Linked DNA regions of Homo sapiens. The protein of the gene in region 3 interacts with the protein of the main gene of each other region in a pairwise test. Each region holds a gene or a part of one and is shown on either strand. Other genes may lie near its edges.

Evidence for each region.
Region 1: the proteins of NRSN1 (region 3) and RNF24 interact in binary tests that used the Homo sapiens proteins (3 or more experiments, as listed by UniProt).
Region 2: the proteins of NRSN1 (region 3) and LYVE1 interact in binary tests that used the Homo sapiens proteins (3 or more experiments, as listed by UniProt).

Annotation. Positions count from the first base shown.
Region 1 is NC_000020.11:4,012,377-4,019,955, reverse strand, and holds the start of RNF24 (RING finger protein 24), read left to right. Parts: upstream 1-4,397; 5' UTR 4,398-4,519; exon of another isoform or gene 4,520-4,811; intron 4,812-7,579. UniProt on the Homo sapiens protein: May play a role in TRPCs intracellular trafficking.
Region 2 is NC_000011.10:10,565,201-10,573,686, reverse strand, and holds the start of LYVE1 (lymphatic vessel endothelial hyaluronic acid receptor 1 precursor), read left to right. Parts: upstream 1-5,021; 5' UTR 5,022-5,154; coding exon 5,155-5,239; intron 5,240-8,486. UniProt on the Homo sapiens protein: Ligand-specific transporter trafficking between intracellular organelles (TGN) and the plasma membrane. Plays a role in autocrine regulation of cell growth mediated by growth regulators containing cell surface retention sequence binding (CRS).
Region 3 is NC_000006.12:24,128,698-24,136,315, forward strand, and holds part of NRSN1 (neurensin-1), read left to right. Parts: intron 1-5,621; 5' UTR 5,622-5,630; coding exon 5,631-5,819; intron 5,820-7,618. UniProt on the Homo sapiens protein: May play an important role in neural organelle transport, and in transduction of nerve signals or in nerve growth. May play a role in neurite extension. May play a role in memory consolidation.

The DNA.
Region 1 (7,579 bases), on a different chromosome or scaffold from region 3:
AGAGGGCCATTGGGAGGGATCAAGGCAGGAGGAGTCACTTTGGAATTCTTGGATGAAGAGGCTCGGGGAACACAGAACATCTCCTCCTCTACTGGCACAGTCCAACGGGTCAAAGCATTATATGATCAACCCTTAAAGGGGTCATTTAGAACTCTGAATAATTAAGCTTTCAAAGGATTGACCAGTGGGAGGGATGTTTTTCTGAAATCGTGCCATCTCAACAGATGGGGAGGATGGACAGAGGAATGGGGCTATAGGCAACCTTTGATTTCTAGCTTCTGTTTGAAAGACTGATTTTGTCTTGACCAGTCAGGCATTCATTCAACAAACTTGTATTGGGCACCTGATCCAAAGATGACTAAAACCAGCCCCTGTTCTCACTGTTCCAAAATTAGTCAGACGTTTGATTTAAAAGTAGTTGTGATTTCTTTTCCAGGAGTCTTGAAGGACTTCTGACCATATGGGTAGGGACAATTTTCTGAGATGGATTTGGGGTGAGGACATTGCTTAAAAGGAGGTATAAGGGCTGGGCGTGGTGGCTTACACCTGTAATCCCAGCAATTTCGGAGGCCGAGGCAGGTGGATCACCTCAGGTCAGGAGTTTGAGACAAGCCTGACCAACATGGAGAAACCCCGTCTCTACTAAAAATACAAAATTAGCTGGGCGTGGTGGCGCATGCCTGTAATCCCAGCTACTCAGGAGGCTGAGGCAGGAGAATTGCTTGAACCTGGGAGATGGAGGTTGCAGTGAGCCGAGATGGCGCCACTGTACTCCAGCCCAGGCAACAAGAGCGAAACTCCATCTCAAAAAAAAAAAAAAAAAAAAAAAAGAGGTATAAGGGAGGAGATGGGAGGGGACTGTGGGGAGGAAGGATAAAGAGAAAGAGGGGCATCCTCCGAAACTCCAAACAGTGAAGTCTTCCCTACCCTACCCCTACCCATCATGTGGAACAAGGAAAATGTTAGCTGCGAAGCCACCACTTCAAGTCCTAGCTGCCTGCTGTTTTGAGGTACCCACCTAAACCCTCCAGAGAAAGAATTGCCCACCCACACTCTCCCATCACTTGCATTTTGCCTAGACCAGTGGGGGCTGGGAGTGGTGGGGGGATGAGTAGACTCATGTGCATCACTAAGCAAAGAGGATCAGGGACTAGCAGGTGAACCTCCAGCCGGAAGCACCAGGAGGACAAAAACTGTGATTTCTTCCTTAAGGGGAACACGGGACAACCCGCTACAGGGGACAGAAGAGCAGGATCCTGCCATATGTTGTAGAAACTGTGAGGCCAGATTCCACCTGTCCAGTCCCAAAGGAAAACTTTCTCCTTGACCCTAAAAACCAGTTGGGCCAGTTGATGACACAGCAAAATTTTAATAAGATGAGTCTCCCTGAAAACAGCAACTGGACACGGCCCCTCCTCCTTCCGTTCATTCTCTCATTCTCTTTCCCACTCACCCCTAATTTTTTCAAGAACAAAAGACATGAAATGAGCCACTCCATCCTCTACCCTACAGCCTGATTGGACTAGTGAATTACTAGCCAAGCTTTCTAAACAAACAAACAAAACAGGTTTCCAAACGCAGGGCAGAGGAAGGAAGCCAAAATAAGGAAGAAGAAAGAAAAGGAGCTCAGCCTTTCCTTCTCCTGTGGAGCCTCCCCAGCCCACCAGGGAACATCACCTCCACCAATAGCCACAGCAGACCCACTATGTGCCAGTCACATATTAGGTCCTGGGAGATACTGATCCTGCTGATGAAGGACTCACATGCTGGTGTGGTAAGAAAATATGCAAATGAGCAGGGACCTTGGAGGGTGCCTAGTGCTGAGAGGGAAGTGGGTACAGGGCACAGGTGGGGATTCTCAAGGAAAGTCTGTCAATAAGTGGGGGCAGAAAAAAATACTTTATCAAAAATGACTTTGTAAATACTTTACTTTTTTTTAGAGCAGTTTTAAGTTTGCCACAAAAGTGAGAGGAATGTGCAGAGTTCCCAACTAGCCCTTCCCCCCTACACATACATAGCCCCCCCATTATAAACATTCTCCCACGGGAGCATTTATTACTATTGTTGGACCTACATTGGCACATCATTATCACCCAAAATCCATGTTTACATTAGAGTTTGCTGCTGGTATTATTCATTCTATGGATTTAGACAAATGTGTCATGACAGGTATCCACCATTATGGTATCATACACAGAGTATTTTCACTGCCCTAAAAAGCATCTGTGGATTTTCAGAGAAAAGAGCAACTTTTGCATGCTAGGTAAGTATTGCTTTCCTAGTAGGGGAACAGCAGGAAACAGCAGTCACCTTGGTGACTACTGAGGTGAAACACCATGGTGCTGTTCTGTAAATGGCTGGAAAATAAGGCTCAAGGAGCCAGATGGGGCAGGGAAAAAGAAAAAGACAGAAACACAGGCAGATTTGAATACCATGAGAATCGATTTGCATGAGAATGGATTGAGACTTCTGCAACAGCCCAGGGGAGAGATGAGGGGGCTGATTTAGAACAGTGAGAGGTTTGAGCAAAGCAAAGTTGAAAAGACCCTCCAGGTAACTGCTATGATTGACAGCAAGGAGGGCAGTGTTCCCCCAGCACAGCCCTGGCACAGGCAGCTCTAGAGGAAGCCTGGGTCTCCCACTCCCTTCCTTTTGCCACAGTCTCCCTAGCACATGCCTCCACCCTTCTCTCACTTTGGGGGACTGTGACCATTGGGTGGCAGGTGACTTCTTGAGAAATTCACTAATGTTTCCCTCTTTACTTCCTCCCTGCCTTGGTGGTTAATGGTTTGCCAAAGCAGAAGGAACATGCCTCTAGGCGCTTGCCATGATGACTTTTGCTTCCCAAAGTTAAGCTACTGAGCTGTTTATGGTTTATGTGATGGGGCCTGAGAGATTAGGAGAAGGAAGGAGAACTTCTGGGGGACACATGGAGACTGAGGAAGAGGGGGCAATCATTTTTGCAAGCTCTGAGCTGCAGCGCACACACAGTCAGCTGTGGAGCTTCACAGCCATTCCCTCTGCAGGCTCCTAGCCTCTCCAGAAACTTCCGTACCCCAGGAGTGGCAGACACAAGGCGATGGGAACAAGAGAGTATCTGCAGAATACACTGCCTGCTAAAGACAAGAGAGGACTCCCCAGATCCTTGCCTTGGTATTGCAGGAAGAGCTCAGCCTCCCAAAATCGGAGGTCAATTTATTGCCTGCCCTGTAGAATGGGAGCCGGAGGTTGAGGAGTGGATGTAAATAAAGGAATGCACTGTTTCTTGCACACACCTCTCTCCACTATCTGGGCAGAGTCTAGGTCTCATCCATCACCAAGGTTCTAGCACTCAGCTGAGAGGCTGCAGCAGGAGGGGCAGATGGAGGAGGGTGCGGTGCATACCATCTCCCCATCAAACCAATGGGCACCACGTGACCATTCTTGTGTCTCTGGGGACTGTCAATCTGCATGCTAGGAAAGGGGTGGCATTCCAATCTTTCATTTTTTTGTGTGTGAGACGGAGTCTTGCTCTGTCACCCAGGCTGGAGTGCAATGGTGCGATCTTGGCTCACTGCAACCTCCGCTCCCCGGGTTCAAGAGATTTTCCTGCCTTAGCCTCCCGAGTAGCTGGGATTACAGGCATGAGCCACCACACCCAGCTAATTTTGTATTTTTAGTAGAGACAGAGTTTCTCTATGTTGGTCAGGCTGGTCTGGAACTCCTGACCTCAGGTGATCCACCCGCCTTGGCCTCCCAAAGTGTTGGGATTACAGGCGTGAGCCACTGCGCCCGGCCCCATGCTTTCACTTTTAAAAATGCTTGTAGGGCACGCAAAAATACTAAACGGTCGATGGAGAAGGTCTGTCTGGAGTAGTTGTTTTTTTTTTTTTTTTTTGAGACAGAGTCTCGCTCTGTCGCCCAGGCTGGTGTGCAGTGGCACGATCTCGGCTCACTGCAAGCTCCGCCTCCCAGGTTCAGGCGATTCTCCTGCCTCAGCCTCCCAAGTAGCTGGGACTACAGGCGCCCGCCACCACACCCGGCTAATTTAATTTTTTGTATTTTTAGTAGAGACGGGGTTTCATCGCGTTAGCCAAGATGGTCTCGATCTCCTGACCTCGTGATCTGCCCGCCTCAGCCTCCCAAAGTGCTGGGATTACAGGCGTGAGCCACCTCGCCCGGCCTGTCTGGCGTAGTTCTAACCAGGAACAGAGCCAGCGGCCAGGGCCGCACCAGGCCTGGCCAGGGAGCGCCGCGCCTGCGCACTGCAGACTCTGAAGCCGCCGAGCCCTCCGCCGAGGTGGGTGGGGAAACTGCCCGGGCATCCGGGTCCCTCACCCCGCCCCCGCTGCATGAATGAGAGGCGCGGCGCCCGCCCCTCCCCCGGCGGGCCCGCCCCTCGCGAGGGGCCGCCGGGCGCAGTCAGCCGCCGCCACCTCCGCCGCGCTCTGTCCGGACGGACGCTCGCCGCCCGCAGCCTGCCGCCCGCCGCAGGGCGCTGACGGTCCCGCACGTCTGCCGCTGCCACCGGCGCGCCCGAGTAAGTGAGCGAGCGAGGGCGGGAGCGCCGCGGCCGCCGCCCCCGGGCTGGGGTTTGGGGGACCGAGCCGCTCCGGGTTCGGGATGCTGAGGAGACCGCGGGCCCGCGCCAGCCTCCCACACACACACACTCTCCCGGCGCCTCGGCCGGCCGGGCGCGGTGTGCAGGGGTGAGGCGGTGTCTCCAGGCTGAGGAGGGACGCGGAGGAGGGTCCGGCGCGGCCCCGGGACTGGAGGGTGAGTCCCTCACAAAGGGCGGAGCGGGGCTGTCACCTGGAGATCACGGAGGGAAGGTGCGTGGGCCCCCGCACGTCCTGCTCGCCCAAGCCCTGGCATCGGGTCCCCGGGCGTGGGAGGCGGCTGGGATGAGCTGGGAGGCTAGGAGGAGGATGGCGAGGACGCTGCCCCCGCGTTGGCGGTGGGCGCGCGCCTTGGGGGGTGCGGCGTGGCAGTGTTTTCCTGGTCCCCGTCCACTCCTCCCCTTTCTTTGTGGCGCTTGTCTCGTGCCCCGTTGTCACAGTGTGCATGGCAGTGGTCGGGGTGGAGACCTCTTCCCTCGGCTTACTCATTAATGAAAGTCACCATCTGTGGGCAGGGGGCGTGTGTGGTTCCACAGGCCGGAGAATTAAGGACCCTCCTTTGTTTCTGGAGACCTAATGATGTGTGTGTGTGTGTGTGTGTGTGTGTGTGTGTGTGTGCGCATTCAAGTGAAAGGGACATCTATGAAATGAGAGAATCAGAGATTGTCAAAAAGGGTATGAGGAAAAGGGGAGGGGATATAACTTCATCACACCTTTACCCAATTCTTTACCTGATGTTATTTCAAACAGTTTTTTCTCACTGTAAAACCAGTGGGTTTTATTCATTGGAAATGTGCATCTAAATTCTCATATATCTGTGTTTCTAGAATACTTTGCCTTTTTGGGCTTAGTTAATGGTAAGATTCTCATGTCTGTCTACATAGGAATACTCCACCGTACAGGACACTGCTTTCTGGGTTTAGTTCATTGATAATTTGTCCGAATGCTCATAAACATGTCTATAGGAATACTCCAATATATCTAGGACACAGTTTTCTCCGCTCCTGAATACAGGCAGATTTTGTTTCTTTCTGCCTCCCTGTGTTAATGAGAAGGTAGTCCAGCAGGTTCTCTCTACCTCCTTGCTTTTTTTTCCCCTTAATGCTTTGGCAGAGGGTTTTATTGCATATTACCCTGGCATGCGCCCTTGCTTTGATGTGAATTTTCCTGTGTTCTGTTGTCTGGTTGTACAGCCCAGCTCAATGGCTCCTCTTACAGGACTACTGGAAAACAGAACACCTTTTTTCATTGTCCTCATCTCCAGAGAGAGAAGGAAGCGCTGTAGGTTCCCACAAACGTTGACTCTGTCAGACTGCCTGCCTGACTTTGTTGTGTTGGTAAAGTTATGAAGAGTTGCAGTTGTTGTAGACCAATTAAAAAGAGGCTATTGGGATAACACCAGCTCTTCCTTGCTATTTTGGTTTTAAAACAAATGATATGAATTTTGCAAGATAGTTGTTAACTCTGGTTGCATGATGATTTTCAGTTTCTTTTTACCCATATACTTTTACAGGGTGTTGGGAAATTAGCCACTCATTTACAAGAAACACACCTCCAAGGTATTTTTATTATGGGTCGGGTGCGGTGGCTCACACCTGTAATCCCAGCACTTTGGGGGGCCGAGGTGGGTGGATCACCAGAGGTCAGAAGTTTGAGACCAGCCTGGCCAACATGGTGAAACCCTGTCTCTACTAAAAAAATACAAAAAATTAGCCGGGCATGGTGGCGAGCGCCTGTAATTCCAGCTACTCGGGAGGCTGAGGCAGGAGAATCGCTTGAACTCCCGGAGGCGGAGGTTGCAGTGAGCCTAGATCGCGCCATTGCATTCCAGCCTGGGCAACAAGAGCGAAACTCCGTCTGAAAAAAAAGCTATTTTTATTATGATCTTTGGATTCAAAATAGCGGTTTTAAAAAATTAAGAGGCGCTTATATTGGATGATATGAATAATTGTATGGGTTCTGTTTTCTTTAAGATTCTCTGTAATATTTTTAAAAATCACATGTATTTTAATTCCTAGTAGTTTTCAGTGGAAAATGAAATGTAAACTAAGCAGTCTTCCACAGCATCTGTTTATGTATATTCCCTCTGTTTAAAACATTTGCTTTTAATTTGAAGGGGAAATTTTCCATGGTCAGTTCAGGATACATTATTCTTAGTAAAATTCTTACCACGTTCAAATTCTTTTTTGTAAGAGTAAAAAAAAATTAATGAAAGTTGATTTTTCAATTGGGGATGTTTTGGTTTTAATGCATGATTTAAATAAAATCTTAATATCAATTAATTTAATTCAGATAAGTTAATTTAAAACAAGGCTTTTATGAAGGAAAAATGAAGCAGAAAAAAAAAAACAAGAGCTTTACTAACTAAAGTCACTAATGTTGAAGTAACCCAGTACATTTATAAACTGCCTGTCTTGACTGCATAAGACATTTTTTAGGAGTCTCCTTAAAACAAACCGTAAGGGGAAGTCTTAGATAAACAGAGTAGCATAACCGGAATTATCACTGAAATAAGCTTGCACAGTATCGCAATTTCATGGAAGTTTAATTTTGCAAGAGTGACTTAGCTATTTTTAATATCAACAAAGGAACCTAAACACAGCCTGGCCTTGTTATTCAGCATTCTGTTAATCAAAGTATTTGCCAACCCATAGTTTAGCATTCTGTAGTATGATGATTGAAGAAAAAATCTAAACTAACTTTTAGATCCTTAAAATAGATAAAATAATGTTAAGTGCTGTTTTAATAGTAAATATTTATTCATTAGAATAGTAATATTATGTTAGTGATGGTAAGAGCATAGATGGTAACACTTTGTTAACTAGGATCTATTATCCTCCCAGTAATGTCTCATAATAAAAAGTAATTTATTTTTCCATTGAGCATTCTCTATCAATAATTGCTTTTTTGTTTTTTGGGTGTTTTGTTGTTTTTTTTTTTTGAGATGGAGTCTCACCCTGTCCCCTAGGCTGGAGTGCAGT
Region 2 (8,486 bases), on a different chromosome or scaffold from region 3:
TGCACCTCCAGCTGCCCCACAGAAAAGCCTGCAAGAGTACTTCCAGGCACAGGCCCTCTCCCACCCTATTCCATTTGTAAGCAAGGGAGGTCGAGGAAAAGGACATCTCCAAAAGGGAGCATAAGAATAGCCATATATACAGGGGCTGAAAAAGTGCTCATGAGTCCATCTTTTCTGGAAAGCAAAGACCAGCCTGAAGCAGTGGGAGCTGCTGCCCAAGCGGTAGTGAACTGGAGAGAAACAGGCCCTGGATTTTCAGTGAGGATGTGGATCTGAAGAGTCCCCCAAATGCCTCTGAAGTCTGACATCTCTGCTTAGCCCTAGGAGTCTGGTTCCCTGCCTTCAGTTGCAGAGTGATGTGTTTGTGTCATTGTTGATGTCACCTCCTAAAAAGACCTTCACTTTCTGGCTGCCACAAAGCCATATGTGTTGCTCCCCATATACAGCCTGACAGAGTAAATGGAGAGGAAGTGCTGGATTTGTGTATCACTGGCTATCAGTTCCTCATGTTGTTAAGCCTCACACAGGTGTGCTAGCATTGAACTGTAGAGTGTCACATACCTGAGTTTGAAAATAAAAGCACATTTCCAAACCTCTGGCAGCAGCCAAATGCCTCCTCATTTTATGGAGTTGAATTACAGTCTTACCCCAACCCAGAATTAGATGCCTTTGGATATATTAGTGCATTCCAGAACCAAGTCAGAGGTCCCCAACCCTTGGTCGTTATACTATGGGCTACCTCACAGGGGCTGGATCAGTTCCTCCTCTTCCCTTCCCCATTCCTGATCCTGGTTTCCTGTATCTTCCTGGTCTATGATTTTTTTAATTAACACAGTTTGCTGTGATTGAGTCTGCTGAGTTTTTAACCAACCTGATTTCCACAGCTGAACTATTTTTGTCTTTCTTACAGCTAGCTGCAGGGGAATGTGGACTTTCCAAATCTAGTTCCCTAAAAATAAACTCTCCTGCCCAATACTTCACACCTTTTTTTACTCCCTTCTCTGCCTACCAAAGCCAGAGGATTCAGATGAGAACACTGAGACCCGAGAAAATGGCAGAACCACTAGACGGAAGCTGGGTCTTTGAATGAGCACTCCCAGTATTGAACTGTGACATGAATAAGAAATAAGATTTTAGTATATTAAGCCACAGAGATTCCAGGATGTTTATAGCAGTTAGCCTACCCTAATGCATACATTTGAACCAGAAATTGTGTACTTTAATAGCAAAATTCCAAAATATGAGGTTCTAGCTTACCAGTTACATGGCAAGAAACAAAACTGCTAGAAAGATGGTAAGATAGTAAAGTCTTACCTGTGATAACTTGGAAAGCATCTCATGGTTAGCCTATTTATAAGTGGTGGAAAGAATCAGCGTTGGGGTATGGAAACTTCTCTTGGCTGCCTTTGGCAAGGTATGGCAGGAGAAATAATTGGCTATGTGGGAGCAAAAATGAAAAAGAATATAGAGTATTCAGAAATGTGAAAGATTGAAGGGTGAGAAAACCTGACCACTTCTAAATCCCAGACAGACTAAAAAGAGCTTTGAGTGGGAGCCAATAAAATTTCTCAGTTGAACAGATCGACTCAGCCTTATGGCAAAGGCTAGATTAAGGATGTGGCCCTTTGTGAGTTCAAATGAACTTAGTGTATTCACCACTAAATTTGAGGGGTATGGTGCTGAGAAACAGGAAATACTTCTTGAGAATTATGACTGGGAAAGGATTTGGGGTATGATTATTGGCACATGGAAGCAGAAATCTAACTTTGTGAGGGAATTTACAAAGAAACACAAGCCAGGACTAAAAACCCCTTTCATTGTTCAGGTGAGGAAACAGCTTTGAGGAGGAAAGAAAATATATCAGAGAGATACCTGCACCCTCATGTTTATTGCAGCAGTATTCACAATCGCCAAGATATGGTATTAAAATGTGTCCAGCAACAGATGAGTGGATAAAGAAAACATGGTGTACATACACAACGGAATAGTATTCAGCCGTAAAAAATGAAATCCTGGCATTCACAGCAACATAGATGGAAATGGAGGTCATTATGTGAAGTAAAATAAGCCATGAACAGAAAGTTAACACCACATGTTCTAATTCATGGAAGCTAACAAAAGATCTCATGGAAGTAAAAAACAGAATAGAGGATACTAGTGGCTGGAAAGGGAAGAGAGGAGGAAAAGACAGATTTGTTAAAGGACATAAAATTAGGAGGAACAAGTTATAGTGTTTTATGGCACTATAGGATGACTATAGATAACAATAACATATTTTCAAATAGCTGGAAGAGAAGATATTGAACACCCCCAACACAAAGGATAAATGTTTCAGATGATGGATATGCTAATTAGCCTGATCTGATCACTACATCTTGTTTGTATGGAAACATCAAAATGTACATGTGTATAATTATGTATTGATTAAAAATAAAATTTTTTTAAAATTAAGAAAACTTTTGGGATCTTAGCTTATGCCGGCAGGAAGCAGACTGCAAAAGCTGTGCTATTCCCAAGGAAGGCATACTCCCTAATATCCACTTCAAATGTGGACAAGCAAGATTATATGCAAATGAATCTCCCAGAGGGATGCAAAGGGCCGCAGAAAACAGTGGATGTGGAAGTTTCTCTCAGAAAGCAGATCAGAATCAAATCAAGGTTAAGTGACTGTGGAAGGCAGAATTTCTAGAATAGCCCTCCAAAGATGTCCCACCCTAATCCCTGGAGCCTTTGAATAGGAGCTCCAGGGGTATGGAGCTTTGTTGTGTTACATTAGATGGTACAGTTGACCTTAAGATAGGGAGGTTATCCAGGTGGGCCCATGAGCCCTTAAAAGCAGACAGCTCGCCGGGCGCGGTGGCTCACGCCTGTAATCCCAGCATTTGGGAGGCTGAGGCGGGCGGATCATGAGGTCAGGAGATCGAGACCATCCTGGCTAACACAGTGAAACCCTGCCTCTACCAAAAATACAAAAAATTAGCTGGGTGTGGTGGCGGGCGCCTGTAGTCCCAGATACTCGGGAGGCTGAGGCAAGGAATGGCATGAACCCAGGAGGCAGAGCTTGCAGTGAGCTGAGATCACGCCACTGCACTCCAGCCTGGGCAACAGAGTGAGACTCTGTCTCAAAAAAAAAAAAAAAAAAAAAAAAAGTAGAGAGCTCTGCTTGAGCCCAGGAGGTAGATGCTGCAGTGAGTCACGATGGCGCCACTGCGCTCCAGCCAACAGAGCAAGACCGTGTCTCTTAAAAGAGCAGAGAACTTTCTCTGGCTAACTGTAGAAGTGAAAGAGAGACTAGAAGTATGAGAAGGACTCAGTGTGTCATTGCTGCTTTGAAAATGGAAGGGCTCTAGGAGAAGAGAATGGTCCCTGGCTGACACCCTGCAAGGAAACAGGGACCTCATTCCCACAACCTCAAAGAAATGAATTCTGCCAACAACCCAAATGTGCTTCGAAGTGGATTCTTCCCCAGAGCCTCTGGGTAAGAGCCCAGCCCAGCCAGCACCTTAATGTCAGTTTCGTGAGACCCAGGGCAGAGGACCCAACTGAGCCCACTCAGACCTCTGACATATAGAAGCTGTTAAATGATAAATGAGTACTGTTTAAGCCGCTAAGTCTATGGTAATTTGTTGGACAGCAATAGAAAGCTGGCACAGCGACCTTTCTAAGGCCTCTTCATTGGTATTCCAGAAATTCTATGGCTGGTGATCACTGTGACTCTCATTCTCCTCCTTGACACAAAGCCTTGCCTTCCCTGATTCATTCTTCCCCTTCCTGTCTTCCTTCGTTCTTTTTGCAATAAGTGAACAAATGCTAGAAAGCTAGCTCTCTTTCGGGCATGGTGTTAGGCTTTAAGAATAATCATGAAGAGGCCAGGACTCTGCCTGTCTGCCTCCCTGGTGCTGTGATGATAGAGTCATGCATGTTTCTGAGAAACTGGGGCTTGTGCTCACCCAGATCATGAGGTCGGTATTGGAGATGTGTAAGGGCTGTTACCCTGGTCTTTTAGAAGTTCCCTGCATTTGTTTAGAGCAGATTCTCTTTTTGTTATTGATATTTTTCACACAAATATCTAACTTTATGACCAGTACCACTTATATAAAAAAGAATTCGTTATCCATATACTTTTCCTATAAAAGACATTCATTTTGGAAAAATCTCATAAACCTTTGCCCAAGACATTGCTTACAAGCCAGAACTCCATAATTACCATGAAGCAAAAACCACTGAAAATCCGGCTGGAAAAACATAGAATACACTCTGCTGGTACACAGCACAGATAAACCTCATGTTCATCGAACAACAAAGGTGGAGTCTGACTTGAATTCTGGCCTACCAGAATATGAAAGGAGTTATTAAGAGAAAGTTATTTCATAAAAGACCCCTGTGGTGATTACTATTGTAAAGTTAAAAATCCTTGGGGAAAGTGTAAAATGTTTAATTTTGTAAATTGCCCTCCTACTTGTGTTATGTAAATGTGAATGTTTATATGTGCCTGGTTTCTTTGAAAAAGGAATCACCTGTAGTGGTGTAGAGATTTCAAATGTGTAAAAGGAGACTCAAAGGAAGGCAGAAGGTTCTAGACTCAGTATTTAAGTGGACATTTACTTTCATGAGCTTCAGCATCATACCCTGCAGATCACAAGGCCGAACAGCTGGGTGGAAAAATCACTGATTGCGGGAGGAAAAGAGGCACAACCTATGCTCAGTCTCCTTTAGGGACAGAGATGTTTCTAGGAGTACATAAACGATGGACTCCACAGGCAGTAACAGTGAATGGTGTGAGAACTGAGCTGCTGGGGGAGGAGGAACAGCAGGGAATATGGGAATTGGGAGAACCTTTAGCAGTTCACACTGTGCTATCTGCCTTCCTCATTTGTGTGTTTTCTGAGTCAGCATTAGCTAAATTTTCCAGAAGGCCATCCACAAAGTACAGCCTGGGCGTTCAAGGGACGTCATTCATTTCCCCCAGTGACCTTGACAAGTCAGAAGCTTGAAAGCAGGGAAATCCGGATGTCTCGGTTATGAAGTGGAGCAGTGAGTGTGAGCCTCAACATAGTTCCAGAACTCTCCATCCGGACTAGTTATTGAGCATCTGCCTCTCATATCACCAGTGGCCATCTGAGGTGTTTCCCTGGCTCTGAAGGGGTAGGCACGATGGCCAGGTGCTTCAGCCTGGTGTTGCTTCTCACTTCCATCTGGACCACGAGGCTCCTGGTCCAAGGCTCTTTGCGTGCAGAAGGTAGGTTTCTCACCAGATTTCCAAACTGAAGCAAGGCTTCAGTCCTAAGCCTCCTAAGCTGTTGACTATGGATTTCTGGGAATGAGGGTGACCCTCAGTGTCAACAGCAGGTCTAATTGGTGGTACTGCTCTGCCAAAAATGTACCACCATATTGTCAACTTCACCAAAATGATTGACATTTACGTTTGTATCATCTGGACTTTTACTTTTGGTTATGGAATATTTTTAATGAGGACATTTTGAAATAAAACACTGAAGAGAAACCATTTGATTTTTACTCTTTTTTGTATGGGTGGTATTTAAATTTTTTGTAGCAATGGGATCTCGCTTTGTTGCCCAGCCTGGTCTTGAACTCCTGGCTTCAAGTGATCGTCCTGCCTCAGCCTACCAAAGTACTGGGATTGCAGGCATGAGCCACTGCATCCAGAAGTAATAATTTTTTTTTAAGTATTTCATTGAAGACGCAAACCATGATTGTAAAAAATTTAAAGCAATCACTAAGCTTGGGAATAATGGGTAACTTTCACTAAAATTGGCCTGTTTTTATGTTTTTTGGGAGTGTTAGCATAATTATTTTAATTTTGATTTTATCATACCATGAATGAGGTGCAATGTTTTAAAAAAATATTCAGTAAATAGCAAATTAGCTGAAAAAAATCTGTAAAAATATAAGTTTGAAAATTAAGCCATCGGCTGTCTACTAAAGGAATGACTTAAAGTGATCGCTGGGCTTTTGAGATGCCTAAATGGAAACCTCATTTTGCACTGTAGGCAAAAAAATTGTAACCACAAATCACTCATTGCAGCTCTGGGCAAATGAAAATCTGAGCACTTTAATAGGAAAATGTGTGTTCCTATGCTGGAAGATGACCTGAGATATAAAATATGCTAGAAACAGACATTCAGAGTTGATTTATATGTTGTTGCATTACATTTTATAAGAAAGGTCAGAGTTATATGATTAGTTTTTTAAAATACTGTTACTTTCAAATAAGTTTGGTCCTCTTTGAAATCCTCTGGGGAGACTATTTTTCCCCACAATGCTGCCATTATTCAAACTATTGGACACTGTTTTTTGAAAATGACTCCATCACACTCTGGACTATCCTCAGCAAGGGAAAAAGATTTTCTAGGGAAATTACATTTTTGGAAACAACCAAAAGTCAGCATAACCATGACTGCAGAATAAAGTAGTTGATGAAGGTAAGTGAATAGGGGTGGGAACTATATTTGAGGGCCAAGTATATAGTGATCCAGAGCTAGGTGTGTATATACAATTTCATTTAATCCTCTCAAAAAGACAGTTTATAGGTGAAGTGACTTGCCCAATGTCATGCAGGCAGTACATAATAAATATTGGGTTTGAATTCAGCCCTATCTGATTCCTAAGCATATGCTATTATCTGATTCCACATCCTTATATCTAACTCCTAAGCATACACTATTTCTACTATGTTTGCTGTTTCCTGAGAAATCTTAAGGAAGGAGTTACTGGAGTACTCCCTTAAATTCCAGCTCCCTCTTTTGATCCCTAAATGAAATAGGAAAGCATAAAATGACTAATGTTGTTGACTTCCTACTGGGCCCCGCCTCTGCTAGGTACAAGTTATCTAATTTAATTCTGATAAAAATCATGTGAAGAAGATATATCCATCCCCATTTTCAGATGAGAATGCTGACTTGCCTGATGTCGCAACAGCCAGTTAACAATAGAAAAAATATTCAAAGCTAAGTCTATCCACCTAGAATAAGTCTATCACTCCTCTAAATAATAGTATTTAGAGTACAAATGACATATGATGAGAGGGTAGTAAGACCAATTGATAATGTGACAAATAAACCTCTGCAATCCATTCCCAAAGAAGTAGCTATAAGAGACCTGAGCAATAGCAAGCTCATGAGCTAAAAGAGCCAAATTTCAGAGCAAACGGTGTGTTCAGGGAGTTCAGCCTAGGGGTGTGTGTGTGTCTGTGTGTGTTCATTTCCTTATAGCACTGTGAAAGGTAAAACAGTGTCATTGTTAAGAACTGGGGGCCGGGTTGGGCACGGTGGTTCATGACTGTAATCTCAGCACTTTAGGAGGCCGAGGTGGGTGGATCACCTGAGGTCAGGAGTTTGAGACCAGCCTGGCCAACATGGTGAAACCCCATCTCTACAAAAAATACAAAAATTAGCTGGGCATGGTGTCTCGCGTCTGTAGTCCCAGCTAGTCAGGAGGCTGAAGCACAAGAGTTGCTTGGACCCGGGAGGCAGAGGTTGCAGTGAGCATGGATCACGCCACTGCACTGCAGCCTGGGTGACAGAACGAGACTCTGTCTCAAAAAAGAAAAAAAAAAGGGCCAGGCACAGTGGCTCACGCCTGTAATCCCAGCACTTTGGGAAGCCAAGGTGGGTGGATCACCTGAGGTCGGCAGTTCAAGACCAACCTGACCAACATGGAGAAACCCTGTCTCTACTAAAAGTACAAAATTAGCCAGGTTTGGTGGCACATGCCTGTAATCCCAGCTACTTGGGAGAATGAGGCAGGAGAATCGCTTGAACCCAGGAGGTGGAGGTTACAGTGAGCCGAGATCACGCTATTGCACTCCAGCCTGGGCAACAAGAGTGAAACTCCGTCTCAAAAAAAAAAAAAGAACTGGGGTTCTTGCTTGGCCATACTGGTGCACACCTGTAGTTCCAGCTACTCAGGGAGGCTGAGGTGGGAGGATTGCTTGAGCCCAGGAATTTACGACCAGCCTGGGCAACATAGCAAGATCCATCTCTTGGGAAAGAAGAAGGAAAAAAGAGGAACTGGGGTTTTAGAATCAGGCATAATTGAGTGTGTGCTCCTAATCTGCCACCACAGCAAGGTTCATATGGAGGACTTAGAAATGCTCCTTCCATGTTTTCAAAAAGAAACTTCCATTAGATATCAACCTAGGAAGTGGTCAAAGCATTTGACTGAGCATCCAATACACAGAGCTGCGTACAAGCAATTACTTGAGAGATTTAAATGCCCTTTTATGGATGTTTGTGGATGAAGCCCAGTAGGAATAATGTATTTGAATACAATACAACTTGGCAATTTTATACAGGTCTGTACATCCCAGAACCCAGAGAAAAGGGTTCAAAAGAATTCCCAAATCCATTAGATTTTGAGTAGAAATATTATTCATATCTTACCTATTCAACAGCCTCAGCTTCTGTGGGGTAATCAATCATTAGCAGACCAAAACCAAAATGCTTTAACGATAATGATAATGTTAT
Region 3 (7,618 bases):
TGTACTTTGTCTTTTGCAGCACTGGCCCTGTGGAAAAGTGGCTATAATGGGAACCTCAGTCTCATTATCTCAGAATCATTTTATGGGAGAGAAAAGCAGCATGAAAAATTGAATGATATTTCAAAGAAAATAAATAGAACAGGGCCTGTGCCTGGCCTCACAACTGACTCACACATAGTGTCACAGGAAAACACTCATATTTGTTGCCTCTCTTCTCTCAAGGAGACCTTGAAGACAAAGAATATAATGTCTGTAATGTTCTTAGAGTTTCATGAGGCATAAAGATTTATTTCTGCTTCAAGGCTATGAACATTTATAAAGGAAAATAAAAAGTAACTGCATATATTACACAGAAATTTAAATTTCCAACACATTGATACTACAGTCTATTGGCACACATAGTGATATCACAATAGCACATTCATGAGCTTGTTTCCCTAATACAGGAATTATTCAAGGAATTCTCAGCATTTGTACTCCCTTTACCTCTTGATGATGCCCATTTTGTTATGTTTATTGCTTCATGAGTGTGTCTCCTTGTAACCCAAGAGTCCATTGAGGGCAGACCTGGCTCCACTCATCTTCACAACTATTATTTATCTCACAGGTGCCTGGCACGTAGTGCTTTAAAAACACTGAAGGAAGGGGAGGATGAAAAATGGAGGACTACTCAGGCCTTCATCCACACCAACCCACGTAGAACTCTGCAGGAAGTTTCAAAGTACTGGAGATTAAAGTGGTCAACAGTACAGAAAATGTCCCTGCCCACATGTAGCTTACACTCTATCATGTATATGGTCTATCAGACCATAAGTAAATAAACCACACATAGAATATCAGATAGTAACAAGTGCTAGGAAGAGAAACAAACCTAGACAAGGGGATAGAAAGTAATGGAACGCTGATATTTAGATATATTGATTATAGAAAGCCTCTCAGAAGAATTTGATAGGGAGTGGCAGCATAATTTTTTTCCCTCCTCATGTCTCTGGGTTATGATAGGTGTGCTGAGTTGGTAAGAACTGAATATTCATTTAATGTATAACAGTGCATGCAATTGAGACAGTTGCTATGGACAGGTTATAAAAAGAAGAAATCCATGGATGGATCCTCATTTATCAGCAAGTAGAGCATCCTTCAGAGAGAATAAAAACAACTCTCTCTTCATAGATAACCAAACAATGACACACAAAAGTTGCTTGTGCCCAATCATCATGGCCATGCTGGCAGGGAGGATGCAACAGGCTCCATCAGAGTGTTTACAGAATGAAGACTAATGTGGATTGAATTAAATATAATACTAAAGAGTGTGTTTACTCTGGATTGAATTAAATATAATACTAAAGAGTGTGTTTACTCATCCCCTCTATCCATGTACCTCCTGTGATATTAAAGCTTTCTGTAAATAAAAAAGGCTCTCTAAAATATGTTCATTAACAACAATCATAGATTTAACCTTTTTGTTGTTGCTACTACAGCTATTGAAATATAGACATCAGAAATCTTATGAAACCTTGATCTTTAAGTAAATAATAAGCCAAAGTAAAAAGCCTTTGCACATAGCTTCTGTTTCTGTCTCAATTCTAGTTTGTTATATATAGTTTAATAACTGCCCAGTCTTTAAAGTGACTTTATGATGTGACCTCACATACCTTTTTTATGATACCAGAAGTGTCCATCAATCAAATAAGATTCCAAATAACTGTAACATGGGGACAAAAAGTTACTGACTTCCCTAGGAGATGTATAACTCTCTGTTGAGATTTTGTAGGTCCAAATCTATCACTCTAACATGTTATATTTTAAAATTCATGTTCTTCCAAGTCATTCTTCTCTAGGAGTGAATTCCAGGTAGTTATATGTTTGGGAAGATGTGTGATACCTGTCAGACCCTCGGGGATCCTATTTTAGGCAACATACGTGATACTGAAGTAACTTGTTAAACAACATACGAACATTTAGTCTACCTAGTAGCAAGTAACTAACCTAACTAGTTATATGCCCTTTTTAAAGGGAAGCTGCATACATACTAGTATAAAGTAAGAATTTGAGCTGTCAGTAAGGATATGGAAGGAGGTAGGAAATCAGTAAACCTAGTTGTTCGTTCAATAAAAAAATGATAGAGTCATTCCGTACAGACAAAAAAAATCCTGAAAAGCTACAACTGGAAGGAATTAGAGATTAATCTGGTCCAACCCTCTTACTTTAAGGATGATGAAACCATAGCCCAGAGAGACTAATGAGCTTGTCTGGAATCTCCTGACCAGTAAGTTGCAAATCAAAAAATGGCAGTAAAGTCCATTCTCTGCCCCGTTTAGGTAGCACAAAACAGACCATGTTCTTGTTCATGTTTTGTGCCCCTGGAGGAGAAAGTAAGGCGCTTTGGAATTCCTTTTCTGGAATGTAGCTGACATAGCTAAAAATCCATGGCTTCAAGTAGAGCCTTCAATCACTCAGGCTCAAAAACATGTGTTTTATGACACTTTCTATCTCTTTTATGATTTGACCTATATTGTTTTTAACAAAGTTGGACAACTGGGTCTCATAAAGCAGAAACATTTAACCTACTGTTCTGGTAGCAAACTGTTCAGGGAATGGCTGTAATATATCACACGGTCCTTCTCTGCATCAAAGCTCAATCCTGGGAAAGAACAACTTCAGCATCTAAGGAAACATAACTCTTACTGTTGCTATGAGGGATTTTTTTTTATTCCTATCATATCTATTTTTGTCCCTTTTTCATGTTAAAGTCTCTGATGCTTTATAGAAAATCTGAAAATATATATTTAGAGGAGGTGGTTCTGACTATGCAAGTATATGATTCAGTCCATACTCCTGCTTCTTGTGTTAATTGTCATCTTTCATCTGTTCCCTGACTCATGGTGTAACCTTTAGTAGATGATTTTTCTATGCCTCAGTTTCCTAGTTGACAAAGCAGTTAGTAATACCAACCCCATCTCACCTGGACTGAAATTTGCATTAGAATGCCTTAAAGGAAAATGCCTTTAAAATTATGCCACTTATATACCAATGGTAATAGGCTCTTGTTAATCATCTTCATTGTATAAGCATTAAATAGAAGGTACTGAAGAGATCGTCCTAGTGCTTAAAATATTAAAACTAGGTTAATATTCTTTTGATCTGCCAGATTTTGCTGCTCTACTCAGGCAAAGAACATTCTAAAAACCTTGACTTTTTATGAAATCATATCTTTCTAAATGTTTTAAAGCAAATGTGTTCGTGTGTGGGGGAGTGCAGGTGTGGGTGTGTATGTGTAGACTCTTGCCTCCCTGCACTCTTTCCCTGGGTGATTTCTTTAGATGGTAGCTATACCTGAAACAGAAAAAAGCACAGGAGCTAACAGTTAGTTGGTTTTAATTGACCAACAGCTAAAAAGATGAGGTTATTGGTCATCATTAATAGCACCATTTTTCTAAGACCAGGGCCATGTTTTCCTCAATTTGACTACATTCTTAACCAAAACTCATGTGTAGCTAAGGGCACATATTTAAAGATGTGCTAATGGGTTTACTTTGTGCCCACTGCACAAGGAATTGCTGACTATCCCTGGTTCCAACTTTGATTTTAGCCCCATAATTCTATCCAATCAAACTAACTGGCCACATATAGGCATTTGATGGGACTGTAGATCGATATTTTTCTTTTGTAGATAAACATTACTAGCTGGTTGCTTGATAAGTAATTGGAAACATTTAATATGCCTCTGTTGGCCTGGATTACAGCACAAGCTCTGAGAAAACCTGGCTTAATAGAAAAATAACCTTCTATGTTGTTCCCCACTTTGTCACGTATAGACTATGTCCACATAACTAAAACTATCTACAGGATAATTTTTTTTGGAAGAAGTCTGATTTATTTGAAAACACAAAAATAACCACCTTCATTTATATTCAAACAGTGTGGCAGCTATATTGTGGACTAAAGAGTTCTTTCAGAATTTTATATTTCTTTTATTATTTCCACTTTTTAATATTATACTTTAAGTTCTGGGATACATGTGCAGAACGTACAGGCTTGTTACATAGGTATACATGTGCCATGGTGATGTGTTGCACCCATCAACCCATCACCTAGGTTTTAAGGCCCACATGCATTAGGTATTTGTCCTAATGCTCTCCATCCCCTTGCTCCCCACCCCCTGACAGGTGTGTGATGTTCCCCTCCCTGTGTCACTGTGTTACCATCTGTGTACAGGATAATTTAAAAATCCAAACACGTATTTCACATTTCCAGCTATACATTTATTTGCTTATATGGAGATCAGAAATTAAGACGATAACTGACAATTCCCTTATTCAACAAAATTACTGTCACTCAGTAATTCTTTCTTTTTTTTAACCATGATTAGTAACAAAATCCATATAAATGCCTCTCTCTAAGGGTATCAATTAGGTCAAATAAAGTAGAAATTTCCATCTTAAAAAGGCAGAACCCAAAACAACCTGCCTAGGACATAGTTTTATTTAACAGTTCTCTGAGTTCTTACTTACAGTAGACACTTCATGGAAAATAATAAAAGGTTGTGTCCACTCTCCACATTATACTCTAGCCACCCACATGGACAGATGTATCCACAAACAATGGGTAAAATATATGGTGTTAGAGTTAGTGAGGTGTAAATTATTGGCCAAGCCATTTGTGATTAATAAAGCATGAGGCATAAATTGCTCAGCAGCTTTTTAATAAAGCTTCATACAACTTGACAATTAGTTAAAATGTCAGAGGAAGATACATGAGATCGGAAGGCAAAATTTCAAACTAGTAAGAGTAATGCGGTGTAGATTCCACAAGGAAACATAGTTAAAAATCTGAGAGGACAGTCTAAGACAAACTCCATCTTCAGCAAATGAGAATGCCTGCCCAATTCTTTAACATGTAAGTGCAAAGACAACTAGATTCTAAGAGATTAAAGATTTCTTGTCAAGGCAATAAAAAATCTCAGCTTCTTTGTTGCCATTTCTTGTGTGCTTCATGCTTAAATGTGTACCTAATTTATGTGAGTTGTGCTGTTGTATCTCATTTCATTTATGGAGATGCAGTTCTAGTCATTGAGTGTTTAGGTAATCTTGCATTAAGCAAAAAAGAAGAACAGCTTATAAGAAAGACAGGTTTGTTGTTGTTGTTGTTTGTTTTATTGAGACGGAGTCTCACTCTGTCACCCAGGCTGGAGTGCAGTGGTGCGATCTTGGCTCACTGCAAGCCCCACCTCCCGGGTTCACGCCATTCTCCTGCCTCAGCCTCCCAAGTAGCTGGGACTACAGGTGCCCACCACCACACCCAGCTAATTGTGTGTGTGTGTGTGTGTGTGTGTGTGTGTGTGTGTTTTTAGTAGAGACAGGGTTTCACCGTGTTAGCCAGGATGGTCTCCATCTCCTCACCTCGTGATCCTCCCTCCTCAGCCTCCCAAAGTGCTGGGATTACAGGCGTGAGCCACTGCGCCCCGCCAAGAGAGAGGGGTCTTTAAAAGTACCTTTTCTGTAATGAAAAGAGCATTGTTCAACTAGGCATACATTACTCAGTCTGGTTCTTACCTTTCATATGTCTTTTGATCCTGTGGCCAAAGCCTGTGGCATTAATCCATGTGGATGTTGTCATTCCAGCTGGGAAGGATGAGTTCTTGCAGCAACGTCTGTGGGTCCAGGCAGGCACAGGCTGCAGCTGAGGGTGGTTACCAGCGCTATGGAGTCCGGTCCTACCTGCACCAGTTTTATGAGGACTGTACAGCCTCAATTTGGGAGTATGAGGATGATTTCCAGATCCAAAGATCACCTAACAGGTGGAGCTCAGTATTCTGGAAGGTAAGGAAGGAGCATGTGTTTAACTTAGGGAATGGAAAAATTATTGGACATGGTTAATACTGCAGCTGTGGAGGATGGAGAGGTTTAGTACTCGCTGTGTGTGCATCACTCTTGGTGATACTAAATGCATTTTTCTTACCTTAGGAAAGAAGAATCTAAACCTTGGGCCAAAGAAAGCCTCTAAACACAGCACAACTATTGATGAGCAGATTAAACATAAATAGGTGCAATTGCCATATGAATTATTATTATTGCTACCATTAAAAATGTGCCATTAAATTCACTAATTGAAGCCATCCATAGGCAAAACATTATATTCTTTCAGCCTTCCTTACAGGCGTGGTAAGTATCATCTGACAAGTTGCAACAATTATTAAAAAGAAATCATTAGGTATTTAGAGAGAGTTAATGATGAAATGTAGTACAGTGGTCAGTATACCAGCTCCGTCTCTACCGAGTGTGTGATCATGAGGCTTTCTGACCCCAGCTTCCTCAAATGAAGGAATCTCATTAGACAATGTATTTAGTCCCTCAACAGATAATTAGTGAGCATCTACTCTGTGCCAAGAGGGTTCAAAGTTCTGGAAGTTAAAGTGGTAAACAGGGAAAGAAAAAGTGACTTCCCTCATGGAGCTTACAATCTATCATGGGAAACAGGCTGTAAACAAAGAAACCACATGATAGAATGTTAGGTAGTGATAGTGCTATGGATGACAGGGGGTGATGGAGACTGGTATTTGGATATGCTGATGGTAGAAGGCTTTCAGAAGAGATGCCATCTCAAGGAATACCAGGATGAGTTGAGGGAACAGACCTGACTGAAGGTCATCCTAGACTGGGAAAATAGTAAGTCCAAAAACTCTGAAATGGGAACAAGTTTGGTGTGTTTGAAAATGATCCAGAGGTCTCCAATCTGGTTGGAGTGGGGTGAGAAAAGGGACAGGCAATGAATTAAGAAAAATAACAAGGCACAGATGATTTATGTAGAGCCTTGTACACCACAGTGAAGTCTTGGGTTTTTACTTCGAGAGACATGGGAAGCTACTGGAAGAGGTTGATAAATTTAGAGGGTGTTAAAGTACCCAGGCAAAAGATGCTGGTGGCGTTAGTGGAGATGGTGAAAAGTAGTCAGATTTAGGTAAAGGTTATGCCTATTAGACATCGGAGTAGTGATCTCTAGTGACAATTTAAATATATCAATCTACGGCTCATAAATTGGGAGTTATTGACACATAGAATCTATACAAGGCACTAGACTTCTGAGATCATCCAGGAGAAGAGTGTGGACATAGAAGAGAAGAGGGCATTGGGACATTCCAACATTTAGAAACTAAGAAGGGGAAGAGGCTTCAGGGATACTGAGAAGATGAACCTTAGATAATGCCTAAGGTCTTCCTTAATCTTTGTTTCTCCCAAAAGATCCCAGAATTTTTTGACATGGATATTGACATAAACTTGCAATTTATTGGCCATATAGTGTAACAAGAGGCTGTATAGCCTAATAATTATAAACATAGATTCTAACCTCAGACTACATGAGCTCAAACCCCAGCTCTTTTGTTTAATCATTCTGTAACCCTGGGCAAATTAATTGGCCTTATGGGGCCTCTAATGGTGATACTTATAGCACCAACCACATAAAAGATATGAGAATTAAATGAGATAGTATTTACAAAGAGCTTAACACTGTCTTGGTATGTGCTTAATAAGCATTAGCTATATTAGCTACTATTACTGGTTGCTGTATGAAGCACTGAGTTCTTAAATGGGAAAAAAAGTTGAAATATAGTTAATAAATC